Linked DNA regions of Homo sapiens. The protein of the gene in region 3 interacts with the protein of the main gene of each other region in a biochemical or structural test. Each region holds a gene or a part of one and is shown on either strand. Other genes may lie near its edges.

What was found. Proteins that work in one complex are often made in the same cells at the same time.
Region 1: the proteins of CDC5L (region 3) and PRPF3 form a complex in vitro, tested with the Homo sapiens proteins (one study listed by BioGRID).
Region 2: the proteins of CDC5L (region 3) and BCAS2 form a complex in vitro, tested with the Homo sapiens proteins (one study listed by BioGRID).
Region 4: the proteins of CDC5L (region 3) and RPA1 form a complex in vitro, tested with the Homo sapiens proteins (one study listed by BioGRID).

The regions. Positions count from the first base shown.
Region 1 is NC_000001.11:150,324,533-150,328,032, reverse strand, and holds part of PRPF3 (U4/U6 small nuclear ribonucleoprotein Prp3), read right to left. Parts: intron 3,139-3,500; 5' UTR 3,091-3,138; coding exon 2,946-3,090; intron 2,283-2,945; coding exon 2,152-2,282; intron 477-2,151; exon of another isoform or gene 381-476; intron 1-380. UniProt on the Homo sapiens protein: Plays a role in pre-mRNA splicing as component of the U4/U6-U5 tri-snRNP complex that is involved in spliceosome assembly, and as component of the precatalytic spliceosome (spliceosome B complex).
Region 2 is NC_000001.11:114,575,116-114,578,615, forward strand, and holds part of BCAS2 (pre-mRNA-splicing factor SPF27), read right to left. Parts: intron 1,644-3,500; coding exon 1,573-1,643; intron 637-1,572; coding exon 475-636; intron 1-474. UniProt on the Homo sapiens protein: Required for pre-mRNA splicing as component of the activated spliceosome. Component of the PRP19-CDC5L complex that forms an integral part of the spliceosome and is required for activating pre-mRNA splicing.
Region 3 is NC_000006.12:44,425,706-44,429,205, reverse strand, and holds part of CDC5L (cell division cycle 5-like protein), read right to left. Parts: intron 3,104-3,500; coding exon 3,023-3,103; intron 2,725-3,022; coding exon 2,482-2,724; intron 1-2,481.
Region 4 is NC_000017.11:1,882,005-1,885,504, reverse strand, and holds part of RPA1 (replication protein A 70 kDa DNA-binding subunit), read right to left. Parts: intron 1,694-3,500; coding exon 1,561-1,693; intron 1-1,560. UniProt on the Homo sapiens protein: As part of the heterotrimeric replication protein A complex (RPA/RP-A), binds and stabilizes single-stranded DNA intermediates that form during DNA replication or upon DNA stress.

The DNA of each region.
Region 1 (3,500 bases), on a different chromosome or scaffold from region 3:
TTCCACAACCCCTGTTCCAAATCCTGCCTAAAACTCACCTCCTCCAAGAAGTTTTCCTCATTATAACCTATCCCACTCTGATTAAACTTTTGTTTCACATTCTCTTAGCGTGTAAGAGCTTGGTTCATATTAGGTTAAATTACATTGTTGATATTCTGTTTGCCAAGTGTTAAGTATTTCAATGTTAGTATAGTTTTCCCAACTAAGTCTAAGCTCTTCCAGGACAGGGGCTTTCTCTTTCTTCTTCAGTAATCCCCATTAACACTTTGTTTTCATCAAACAATGGAAACTCAAATATGATGACTAATTTGCAAGGTGAATTTAACAGGACCGAGAGTGGCCAACTGGAAGGGACAATGGGAAAAAGCAAATGTACACACCGGTGGTAGGCTTTGGGTGACATCCCCTCTTCACTAGGAGGGCTCGTGTTTTGCAAGGACATATCCTCGGCCAGGGGCGAGCGCTTCCTGGAACTCCTACAGTTCAAGAAAAAGGACTCTCCCATAATATATTGTGTGGGGTGGGGACCTGAATGGACCAAAAATGGGACCCGTATCCCAAGGCTATCTAGACACCTCCTTCAAGAAGCCATTTTTATTAATCCCACCCAATGTAGTCACTTCATTCACAGCATGCCCTCAGCACTCATACAGAAGTATGCCCTACTGGCCAGGCGCAGTGGCTCATGCCTGTAATTCCAGCACTTTGGGAGGCCGAGGCGAGCAGATCTTGAGGTCAGGAGTTCGAGACCAACCTGATCAACATGATGAAACCCCGTCTCTACTAAAAATACAAAAATTAGCCAGGCATGGTGGCATGTGCCTGTAATCCCAGCTACTCAGGAGGCTGAGGCAGGAGAATCACTTGAACCTGGGAGGTGGAAGTTGCAGTGAGTCAAGATTGCGCTACTGTACTCCAGCCTGGGCGACAGAGTGAGACTCACCCTTAGAAAAAAAAAAAGGAAAAAAAAAAAGAAGTATGCCCTATCGTGACATAATCTTCACTGTACAGATCTGTGTATACTGTGGATCAATCATTCCACCTTAAATATAACAAAATTCAACATAGGTCTGAAATTCTATAACCAACCCTAAAATTTACATGAAACTGCTACTTAGATTTTATAATACGTGAATATATATTTTGTGATACCCCTGCCTCTTCTAAATTGTAACTCCTGGGCTCAAGAGATCCTCTTGCCTCAGCTTCCCAAGTAGCTAGGATTACAGGCACATGCCACACTGCCTGACAAATTACAAATTGTTTTAAGGCAAGGACTATCTCTCCTTCTCTGACCACCCTACAATGCTCCAAACACAAAGGGCACAAATCTCTCTGCTTTTTTTTTTAGTTCCATAGCCTGGCCAGGGGACCAAGCAGACATTACTTATTCACTCTTTTCCCTCAGGAAAAGTAATGGGATAGCCAAGGTATCAGAAGAACTTTGGAAGGTTTGATAGGAGTCACAGAACTTTTTTTTTTCTCCTAAAGAGAGATACTGGGAAATGAGTAGAAAAATAGGCTACTTGATACTGCTAATACTGAAAGAGGCCAGGATCAGTCGGCAACTACAGAATAAAAAGTGTAGTAGTTAAGGGGGTACTGACAACTCCTCCAAGTGTTTCACTCATGGCAGCAGAGGACCAGCAATATGCCATAGAGCAAATGGTAAGCTCTCAAGAATATAATAAATAATAGTTATTTTTTGGTATTCTATCTACAAGTGCATTGCAGAGAAACCTCTACAAAGAGGCAACAATGAGGTGTACAGCTCAGGTACCAGTGGAGTCACATTCTAAAACAACTTATTAGGCCTCAAATAAATCAAAGATAAAATCTTAGAGCAATCAGTTTATAAGTAACAGTAAGAAGGAAAAAAAGGAAATATGGAGAAACATGAGAATCAAAACTCCTGTTATCTAAAAAAAGACAAAGCTGCCAATTATTTCTTTGGATATTTCAACCCATGAACTTAGAGGTAGTTCAGATGGTGATGACACTAATTCATCTCTCCTACTCTAATGTCTAAGTACCTCTCTTGAACATTTGCTGCTCTAAATAGAGGATATCAACGTGTGAACTGGTAAGCTCAGCAACTCTGTTACCATTCAAAACAGTCCTGAGCTCATTAGACAGTAAATTGTAACCTACCTTTAGCTCTCGTTTTCTGCTCCTGTCACTGCTAGACTTGGAATGCCTAGAGCTTCGGCCTTCCTCCACAGCCTCAAACAGTTTGTCCACAAATCGGAGAGTAGAATCATCAAGAAAAGGTTTCAGATGATCTGACAGGAAGAAAGGCGGTGGTAGGGTTGGAAAGGTAAGAGTACACAGTCTAATACTAGGCCTATAACAGGTACCAACACTGGAATTTTATTCCCAGGAGTGAAACAAATTTTAAGTTTTTTGTAGGATTCCCATCTCTCTTACACTAAATGACCTTGCCCTGTGAGGTGAAAATAGTTATAATTTTTTGGCGTGGGAAGTGGTGCAGTTAGAGCAACCTGTTTACCTTGAACATCAAGTTTGAGATGAATAACCACCCTCACCTTTCCCAAATAGCAAGTTGTAGAAGCCTACCATTAACAAAATCTACCTCCTTCAAGCTTTTTCATGTATTTCATAAAGATTTTTGTATGTTGAGATGTTCAGTCTGAATCTGAATATGCCTATCTGACTTAAGCATACTTCCTAAGTAAATCTAACTTAGGTGACTCAGTATGGTAGCCAAACGAAGATTTAAAATCTATCATAAATAACATAAAAAATAAGCAATTAAGAGAAAAAGCAAATTATTATTTAGCCTATTTTCACTATAATACAGGTGAAAATAAAATATGGCCTGCCATTTTTTTAGATGTTCCCAACAGAGAGAATTTTGAGGAAGTTCAAAGCAGTGTTTGGGGTCACCCTATATGTTAAGATAAAAGATGCAGAAAGGTACATACCGGCTGCCTTCTTCTTGTCCATGCCCTTCCCCACACAGTTCAATGCTGCTGTGACCACCGTAGGCTCTGAGAAACCCAGGACCCTCTTCACTGTCTTCTCTATCCATGGTTTCAGCTCATCCAGCTCCCTCTTTGACAGTGCCATTTTTCAGGAAAAAGAGAACAATAGCTCAAACAGGACTCAATACTACACCTAAAAAAAAAAAAGAGACAAGTTAGAGAATAAGAAAAGACTAAAGTGGGCTGGGTGCAGTGGCTCATGCCTGTAATCCCAGCACTTTGGGAGGCCAAGGTGGATGGACTGCCTGGGGTCAAGAGTTCGAGACCAGTCTGGCCAACATGGTGAAACCCTGCCTCTACTAAAAATACAAAAAAATTAGCTGGGCGTGGTGGCATGTGCCTGTAATCCCAGCTACTTGGGAGGCTGAGGCAGGGGAATAACCAGGGAGGTAGAGCTTGCAACAAGTCAAAATCGCACCACTGCACTCCAGCCTGGGCGACAAAGCAAGACTCTCTCTACAAAAAAAAAAAAGACTAAAGTGATCCAGGGAAATG
Region 2 (3,500 bases), on a different chromosome or scaffold from region 3:
CCCGCCTCGGCCTCCTGAAGTGCTGGGATTACAGGTGTAAACCACCGCGCCCGGCTTTTCTTTTTCTTTTCTTTTTTTTTTTTTTTTTTTGAGATAGAGTCTCATTCTGTCGCCTAGGCTGGAGTGCAGTGGCAAAATCTTGGCTCACTACAACCTCTGCCTCCCAGGCTGAAGCAATTGTCATGCCTCAGCCTCCAGAGTAGCTGGGATTACAGGCACACGTTACCATGCCCAGCTAATTTTTTGTATTTTTTTTTTTTGTAGAAATGGGGTTTCACCATGTTGGCCAGGCTGGTCTCGAACTCCTGACCTCAAGCAATCCACCCACCTCTGCCTCCCAAAGGGCTGGGATTACTGGCATGAGCCACTGCACCCAGCACCTCCCATACTTTTAAAATGTACTAAAACTTTGGGTGAGATGGAAAGAAAAGAGAAAAAACAAAAAAAACAGAAGATGAAGAAAAAGGTTCTTACTCATTGTATACTTTCCAGGCATTACATCCATGCTGTGACATTAGTTCCAGATTCTCAATTCTAACTGCTTGATGCTCTAACTGGGCCATAGAATTGTTTACACATTCTTGCCATGCAGTAATGTCATTTTTTTGACCAGAGGAGGGGGCTGGAAGCTCATATCTGAAATTAAACAACAAAATAAAATAAAACCATCTATACTGCCAAGCCTTTACATCTCTTCTCAGTAGAATGTCCCATGAGTCTCCATATAGTATAAAAACTACAGAAGACTAAGGATGTAAACCTTGCAATAATAAGAAACCGATATATGCTAACAATCAATTTACAAATATGATTTAGCACCATTATGTTCACTTCAATGTGAACTGGTTAAATAAGCAACATTACATTCACATAAAAGATTGTTACATTAGCTATTAAATGTTACTGAAGAATATTTAATAATATTAAGATGTCAGTAATATATTAAGGGGAAAAAGCAGTAGACAAAAAAGTTTGCTACCATTTTTGTAAAATACTCACACCCACCCATCCACTAACATACCCATGCGCCGGTAGAGAAAAAAATGAGAAGCGATATGACTCCTTCTATTCTCTCTTCATACTACCCAGTCAGTCCTTCAACACTGCCTCTCTCTCTCTCTCTCTCTCTCTCTATATATATATATATATAGTTTTTTTTTCAAGACTGGGTCTCCCTCTGTCCCCAACGCTGGAGTGCAGTGGCACAATCTCGGCTTGCTGCAACCTCCATCTCCTGGGGGGTGTCAAGCGATCCACCTACCTCAGCTTTCCAAGTAGCTGGGTCCACGGGTGCGTGCCACCACACCCAGGTACGTTTATTATTATTATTATTATTATTATTAATTATTTTTGGTAGAGATGGGGTTTTGCCATGTTGCCCAGGCTGGTCTCAAACTCCTGGATTCAAGCAATCCACCAGCCTCGGCCTCCCAAAGTGCTGGAATTACAGGTGTGAGCCACCACACCCGGCCAACACTGCCAATATTAGCCAGCAAATACATTCTTCACAAATCTCAGCTCATTACTGAGTTACTACAAACTAAATTTTAATTTCCATTTTAATATTCTTACCGTTTCATACTGAGCAATTCAATTGGTTGTCGAGCAGCCAGTCTTTCAAATTCATTTCTCATTATGTCAGTCTGATGTGTAAATCAGAAAAAAGATTTCTAAGATCATGTTGACAACTAAAAATTAACAATCACCAAAGAACAGATTTAAGCTACACTACCCATTATAATGAATTGTTTACCTTTCCCTAATTCTTCTCTGAGTTAAATGCTCTCTAGAATCTGAAGCACACACACACACACTCACTCACTCACTTCACATTCAGGAAAAGTGGCATGTATTAAGGAGCCCACAGAGAAAAGGATTAATCCTAAACCAGTGGTTCTTAATTCCAGAAGCATATCAGAATCAGTTCGACAGTGCTATGGTTTGAATGTTTGTCCCCTCTGAAATTCATACAGAAACTTAATCCCCAATGTAATAGTATTAAGAGGTGGGGTCTTTAAGAGGTGATTGGGTTATGAAGGCTCAATCCATTCATGGGTTAATAAGTTATCACCAGAGTGGGTATGTTATAAAAGCCAGTTTGTCTTTCTCTTGTGTGCCCCTACCTTGCCATGTAATGCCCTGTGCTGCTTCAGGACTGTACACCAAGTCCACACCAGCAAGAAGGCCCTCACCAGATGCAGCCTGTGAACCGTACACTTTCCAGCCTCCAGAAATCCAAGAAATAATTTATTTATTTATTTATTTTTTTTTTGTGAGACGAAGTCTCGCTCTTGTCCCCCAGGCTGGAGCGCAATGGCGCGATCTTGGCTCATCTCTGCCTCCCGGGTTCAAGCGATTCTCTTGCCTCAGCCTCCCGAGTAGCTGGGATGACAGGCATCTGCCACTATGCCTGGCTAATTTTTGTATTTTTAGTAGAGACAGGGTTTCACCATGTTGGCCAGGCTGGTCTCGAACTCCTGACCTGAGGTGATCGGCCTGCCTCAGCCTCCCAAAGTGTCTTTTCTTTATATTCACTATCTTCTCTAGCAATTTTACTGTTCGCAAGTAAATGTAGTATAGCTGTTCCTCTTTAGGGCCAACGTCCTAACCCATTTCCATTCTGCACATTTCCTACCCTGAGGATAAAGAACTGCTTAAAATATTTCTTTGTAGTAATACTTCGGTTATTCCATGTAATTTTAATTTTCTGAGGGTTTCAACTATCTTAACAATTAGACTAAATAAGTATCAAAGGCCTTACAGAAGCCTGCATGAATGTTTAAAAGTTTTTATTAGGCCGGGCGAGGTGGCTCATGCCTGTAATCCCAGCACTTCGGGAGGCCGAGGTGGGTGGATCACGAGGTCAAGAGATCAAGACCATCCTGGCCAACAAGTTGAAACCTCATCTCTACTAAAAATACAAAAATTAGCTGGGCGTGATGGCACGTGCCTGTAATCCCAGATACTCGGAGGCTGAGGCAGGAGAATTGCTTGAACCTGGGAGGTGGAGGTTGCAGTGAGCTGAGATCACACCACTGCACTCCAGCCTGGCAACAGAGTGAGACTTCATCTCAAAAACAAAAAAACAAAAAAACAAAAAAACAAAAAACAAAAAACAAAAAATTTCGTATTAAGCATTTCTTTCTGCAGAAAGTATTTTGCAGGGGCTACTGCTAAATTACACACAATCTTAAGAAAATGTAGTTACCTAGTTTCCTGCAAAAAAAAAAACCAGGGCATTCTAGCTAGAAAATTCTGCAGTGACAGACAAGGAGTAAACAGCCAATTAAACACGAGGCAGTATAAAAATGCAGTATAAGTAGTCTTGAGCCATGTAGCATAGGAGGAACCCTTAACTAACTCACATGCTCAGTAAGTGATAAATCTGGAATTTTAGCTCATCTCTCTCCAAAGACTAAGCCAGTGTTCATGGAGCGGCAAGGGCAATCCCTGCTCATGGAGTAGTCTCATCTTAGCTTTGAGAGGCCTTCCTCAACCAC
Region 3 (3,500 bases):
TACTAAAAATGTAAAAATTAGTAGGACGTAGTGGCACATGCCTGTAATCCTAGCTACTCAGGAGGCTGAGGCACAAGAATCCCTTGAACCCAGGAGGTGGAGGCTGCAGTGAGCTGGGATCGTGCCACTGCACCCCAGCCTGTGCAACAGAGTGAGACTCAGTCTCAAAAAAAAAAAAAAAAAAAAAAAAGCTAATGAAACTAAGGCTCATAGAGATTCAACCACTTGTTAAGACCACATCGTTAGTAGGCAGATGAGGCAGAATACAAATGGCACCACTGGGTGTGCCCCTTCCACTCTCCCACTCCACCATGTGTGCAGGACCTCACGTGATGGTAAAGGGGAGCTAGGCATCTTTTTGTCACATGGCATTTTTCTCATCCTGAAGGAATGCCCTGACATTGCCAGATAATGAGACTGGGGCACGAATTAGATGATAGATCATAAACCAGTTTAGTTCACTACTAAAGAAAATAGTGTAAAATGACAGAATGAGAGGGAAAGCTGGACAGGCCTGGGTTCAGATCACAGCTTTACCATTGAAGCAGCTCTTTGAGCTTGCTTAATTTATCTGAGCCCATTTCTCAGGGCTTTTTCAGCCTGGAAAGCTGAAAAACAGCTTTCCAAGCAATGATGATGCTGACCTTAGATCAGATGTGTTTGTTATTAGGATTAAGTGAACAATATACTATAGAGCCTAGCCCAATGCCAGACACACAGAATTCCATAAGCATATGAATTTTTTCCCAGCCCTTTGCTTCATGGCTTATGAAAAACTGGGAACCACCTTCTGTGCCTTACAGAAGGCTTTCAATCTTTCCAGTAATAATGAAAATAAACACATCAAAATCTACAAAATCAAGAGAAATGATTGATAAACAAAAAATTTTAACAAAAGAAACGGAAAATCATCTCTATAGAAGAAAAAATGGACACTTAATACCTTAAGGGAAATAATGGAAACAAATCAATGTTAACATATCTTAAAGTATATTAAAGAAAAAGAAAATCTGACAGTTTATTAAAAGAGAAATGCTATTTCACTCTGAAACTGCACAGAGTAAAAATTTACAAGTTCAGATCTTATAATCATTACGAGAGAATATGGCTAAGTTATCTTTAAACTATCCATAAATAATCTGCTAACTAAATAGCTGCTTCAAATTCTTTTTGGAACAAAGAGAGATATACACAGATAAAATATGAGAGAATATTTAAGCTACTTTGTTTCAAACAATTACAAACCAATACTTAGAATTATTATTTTTCAAAAATTGTGTTAGGGTTTACCCTCTACAGAATCTCCAAAAGCAACAATGTGATCCTTGTTTTAGGTTTCCATACATACAATTTAGGAAAATTTATTTCCTAAATTCCTCTTCCCCTCATATTTTCACTTTCAAAAGAGGAAACTGTGCAAGTATCAATTTCGTAGCCTGATTCTCAATCCCAGTTCAATGATTAAATGTGCTCGACAGAGTAGGCAACTCAACAGATGTTAGTTTCCCTACTGCACTTACTAAAAAATGAGTGACTCAGTTATTCTGAAATCAGGGACAAGTTATTGAAATATAAATCGAAACCCTCCTTCCTTTCTCTATTTTCTAAAAATCCTATAATAAATAATGTATTACTTATGCAATAAAGAAAACACAAAGTAAGAAATTGTGAAAAGCGAAGAAAGAGGAAGAATGCAGGAGAGAAGACAGGAGAGTTTGTAAGAATCTTGTTTGTTTTATCCTAAGTATACAGCAGCTCATTCCAAATCCATAGGTCTATCACTGCTCCTCAGGGCTGAAGGCTAAAGAAAAAAAGACTTTTAAGCTAATGACCACTCTGCTTCCAACGATGAGACCCACTGTATCTTCTTATACAATTATGGAGATTTCTATTTACAATCACAGTTGTTTGCTCTGTCAAAACAGAAGGAATAAAATGCATGTAGAAGAAAAGACCAGATACAGACTTCATATAAGAAATCATTTCTTCATGTCCTTATCCAAAAGAGTAGGGGGAAATCATGTGAGGGGAATATATTCAGTAAAAAAAATACTTCCTTCCTTTCAATAGCTAAAAGGTTTAATCTATAAACATTTTTATATTAGTCTCTCTCACCTCTTCATATTATTCTAAATAAGTGATGTTTAAGTACTAAAGGCATCTAATTTTTATTCAGAGATAGCAGAGCTGAATACAGAAAACGGCAACTGTAACAACTGTCAACGAAGCCATTAATACCCATGAACCAAAAACACCCTGGCGGTGTTTATTTGCTAAAGGTCTATCACACTGAACACGGGGGATGGAGGTATTTAAAGCATGTCCTTTTCATAACACTTAATCTAAACATGCATCTCCTAATCATACATTTCAGTTGTTTATGAATACCAACAGGGAAAAATAAGTTCATTATTTGTCCATGATACACAGCACCTAACAACTACCTAAATCTCAAGAAGAAATATTCCAGCTCAATCATACCTTTTTCAGCTCTTCTTTGGAGAACTTTTCATAAGGATTATGTTCCAGATAGGTAATGTGCTCTGAATTATTGGTACCAAACCCTACAGTTTTGCCTTTTTTATTTCCAGATGGTTCATAAGGGTGATGTAGAAGGTCATAATGAAGCATTGTGATCATTTCTTTTTTGATTAGTTCTTCACTTTTCTGTAAATCTGTTAAAGGCGGTTCTACATTTAAGGGTCTTAGAATAGTTTCATTTACCTAAAATTTTAAAACAAATACAATTACCAAACATATCACTATAATATATTAATGTTATTACCTGTTACAGCATGAATTAAACAGCGGTTTTACATTTTCAAAAGCAATTTCCATTTTTTTCCTTCTAAATTCTTTCTGGTACTACTGAAACATTTTAAAGATTGGATTTGAGAACTACTTTGCTATATTCCAGAAAGTAGATGAAATTTTGTTTTATAGTCTTTATGAATGATGTAAAACGCAGCAATCATATAAAAAGAAACTTAAAACTTCCTAAACCAGAAATTCTAACACTTACTTCTGATGGTCTTGGCAGATCTTTCTGGACAGCTTTATGCATTCGTTTCATTTCCTTTACACGCTCTGCATCTCGTATGGCCTAAAAAATGATTTTTATATCCTTTATTGCAGCTATAGCGTATTTGATATCTCTCAGTAAAGCTAAAAACACTTTGGTATGTAAGATCATGTGTGTTCAATAGCTAAAGTTTAGAAATCGGTTTAAGTTTGTAGAAAGGCAATGCTAAGGCAACAGAAATGAATCAGTCTATTCACTCTCATTATAATAGAAACTAAGAGCTTCCAATGTCTACTAGAGCATTCTCCAAACTTGCATGGATCCATATCACGTAACAAACTTTTCTCATCTAAATGGAAAACCTAAACTCCAAAGAGACTCCCACGACAAAACTCTTTCTTCCCTTTCACTCCAAAATTACTGACTTTTAACTCAAAAAGCCAGCCAAAAAATGTATTGTTTCCTGATTCTTATGAAT
Region 4 (3,500 bases), on a different chromosome or scaffold from region 3:
ATGAGACCCTGTCTCAAGTTAAAAAAAAAAGGAACATTCATGATTCATGGGAGGAGATCAAAATCCCAACATCAACGGGAGTTTGGAACAAGTTGATTCCAACCCTCAAGGTAGACACTGAGGCTTCAAGACTTTGGTGGAGGAGGGATCTGTAGATGTGACGAAAATAACGAGAGAACTAGAATTACAAATGGAGCCTGAAAATGGGCCTGAACTGCTGTAATCTCACGATCAAACTTGAACGGATAAGGAGCTGCTCCTTACGATGGGCAAGGAAAGTGCTTTCTTGAGATGAAATCTCTTGTGGTGAGAACGCTGTGAGCATTGTTGAAATGACGACAAAGGATTTAGAATTTGCATAAGCTTGGCTGATAAAGCAGTGACAGGACCTGAGAGGGAGAGACTCCAGTTTGAAAAAGTTCTCCTGTGGGTAAAATGCTGTCAAACAGCATCGCCGGCTATGGAGAAAGCTTTTGTGAAAGGAAGAGTCAACCAATGTGGCACACTTCACTGCTGTCTTATTTTAAGAAACTGCCAAAGACACGCCGATGTTCAGCAACCATCGCCGTGACTGCTCAGCCATCAACCCTGAAACAAACCCCCACCAGCAAGAAGATTACGACTCAGATGATTGTCAGCATTTTTCAGCAATAAAGTTTTTGTTTCAAGAGAAGGGGTCTTCCATGTTGCTCAGTCGAACTCCTGGGCTCATGTAATCCACCTGCCTCAGCCTCCTGGGTAGCTGGGATTACAGAGAACCGAAAGAGTGGGTGTCCCATGACAGGACAACGAGGATCTGTCCAGTGTTTAATTCTTGAGATGTTCTATAAGAGCACTTAAGAGCTGCTGTTGACAATGATGGATAAGGGTATACAGTGAAATGAGACAGGAGGAATGAAACCTACACTGTATATGATGAAAATAAAAGAGCAGGCGTAAAGGAGAAATAAATGATCTAAATACTAAACTGCTGGCAGAACACAGGCTTAGATCAAGATGGGAGGAGGGTCATTAAATACAAACACTGAAAGGAAAAAGCTGCAACTAAAAGTCAAATGTCAGGGCCAATCCTTGTCCGGGAATGCCGGCAGCTCTCAGCCTATGAGGTTAATACACTATTCTACAGCCAGGAACAGCACCCGTGAAACTGCCTCATGTCTGACCTGAGGCGGACTAACGCTCATCTCAAAAAACATCTTTTTGATATGTGGGCGCTTAAATTTGCAGGAAGGATCACAGGAAAGAAACGTGGACCCGAAAGCAGGTGATATTATACCACAAAGCTTGACTGTCACCCCTGCTCCAAGATCCCTCTAGGAATTGACTCTAAGAGTTCTTCAGACTCTCCTGCCTCCAGTCCCCTGAGGGGTAACACATATTCCCATGAGCACACCTGGCTGCTTCCCTCTGCCAGTGATTCTCAACCCCCATGCCACGCTCAGGTCACAGCCCCGGGTAAGAATTACGGCTCTGACAGCTGGTGCTGGAAACCAAGTTTCTAAATCCATCCTTCTGCACACTTTACAGCCCTTTGTGAAGGTGGTTAGGAATGCTGGGTACCTTGTCGCCTTGGCCCAGGTTCTCGGATTTGACCTCATACAAGGTTTTCCAGTTGGTGTTACTCCCTCCGACTCCGCCGCTCTTTAGATCAGAGATGGAAACACCATCTAAGGCTTGTCCTTCTGCGTCAAACCTGAAAACGTGAACGAATAACGATGACGAGCGCTTGATGTGACATGCTTCTGCTTCTCCACATGCAACTTGCTGCTACGCGACAGACACAGGTTTCCCACCACCCGCCCAGCTTTCACACAGGTCACGGTCATGTCGGCTGAAGCTGGTATCTTCGTAATTATATATTTTTTATAATATTTAAATTAAAAAAAATTGTGTCAGAGTTTCACTCTGTCACCCAGGCTGGAGTGCAATGATGCAATCATGGCTCAAGGCAGCTTTGACCCCCTGAGCTCAGTGATCCTCCCACCTTTGCCCTGCTAAGTAACTGGGACTTCCATGCCCAGGCCCATTAAAAAAATTTTTTTTAGGCTGGGCGCAGTGGCTCATGCCTGTAACCCCAGCATTTTGGGAGGATGAGGCGGGCGGATCACGAGGTCAAGAGATCAAGACTATCCTGGCCAACATGGTGAAACCCCGTCTCTACTAAAAATACAAAATTAGCCGGGCGTGGTGGTGGGTGCCTGTAATCCCAGCTACTCGGGAGGCTGAGGCAGGAGAATCACTTGTAGGCAATTCTCAGGAGGCGGAGGTTGCAGTGAGCCGAGATGGCGCCATTGCACTCCAGCCTGGGCAACAAGACCGAAACTCCGTCTCGAAAAAAAAATTTTTTTAAGAGATGGGGTCTTGCTCTGTTGGCCAGGCTGATCTCAAACTCCTGGACTCAGACAATCCTCCTCCCTCGGCCTCCCAAAGTGCTGGGATTACAGGGCGTGAGGCACTGCTCCTGGCCCAAAGTCTACTGAAGAAACGGAATGACCTTTCTTTGAATCTCAGTTGCTTTGATGCCCCCCAGTGGTGAAGAGAATCAGTGCCAAAGTACCAAAGAATCTTTTCTTAAACTAGCCTTGCATATTGGCAGTGGCCAGACCACCCCAGGCCTAAAATCAGAAACTGGGAAAGTCAACAACCCGTAAGCTATAAAGTGGCCGTCTGGGGTAGTCCTTTAATCTGCTAATGCTCATTCTCAGGCAGCAGCTGCGTGGTGATCATCACCGAAATGTACCAGTGTGGAAACGGACAGCCAATATACCGTGGTAGCAAAAGTGTTTCCATAAAAGGCCTCCTATGCCTGATACAGAAGCCAAAAGTGGTTTTTTTGTTTTGAGACAGAGTCTTGCTTTGTCACCCAGGATGGAGTGTGGTGGTACCAACTTGGCTCGCTGCAACCTCCACCTCCTGGCAAGTGATTCTCGTGCCTCAGCCTCCCGAGTAGCTGGGACTACAGGCACGCACCGAGTAGCTGGGACTACAGGCCCGGCTGATTTTTGTATTTTTTGTAGAGACGAGGTTTCACCATGTTGGCCAGGCTGGTCTTGAACTCCTGGCCTCAAGCAATTGTCCACCTCGGCCTCCCAAAGTGCTGGAATTAAGGTATGAGCCACCGTGCCTGGCCCAAAAGATTTTATAAACCAGAGCAACTTATCAGAAGGCATTATCTTTTTTCTTGTAGATTTACCTTCTTAGTGAAATTTTACTTTTGCTAATATCGAAGCTAAATTAATTTGTATTAAATTATTATGAAAACTGATTGTACTTCTTGATCACACATCAATTGATATGAAGGAAAAGGGGCCAAGGAGAAAGTGGCTCGGGAACACAGTGGTGGCGGAGAGGAGCTGGCCGGAGATGAAAGGCCAAATACCATCCCAAGGTGGGTAACCACACAAAGAACAGGTTCCTTAAACAGAGACCATCTAACAGAATGGATGTTACCCTGAGCTGCAGACAGCTGCCTTCTCCTGTCAGGTAAGCGGCTAAATCCC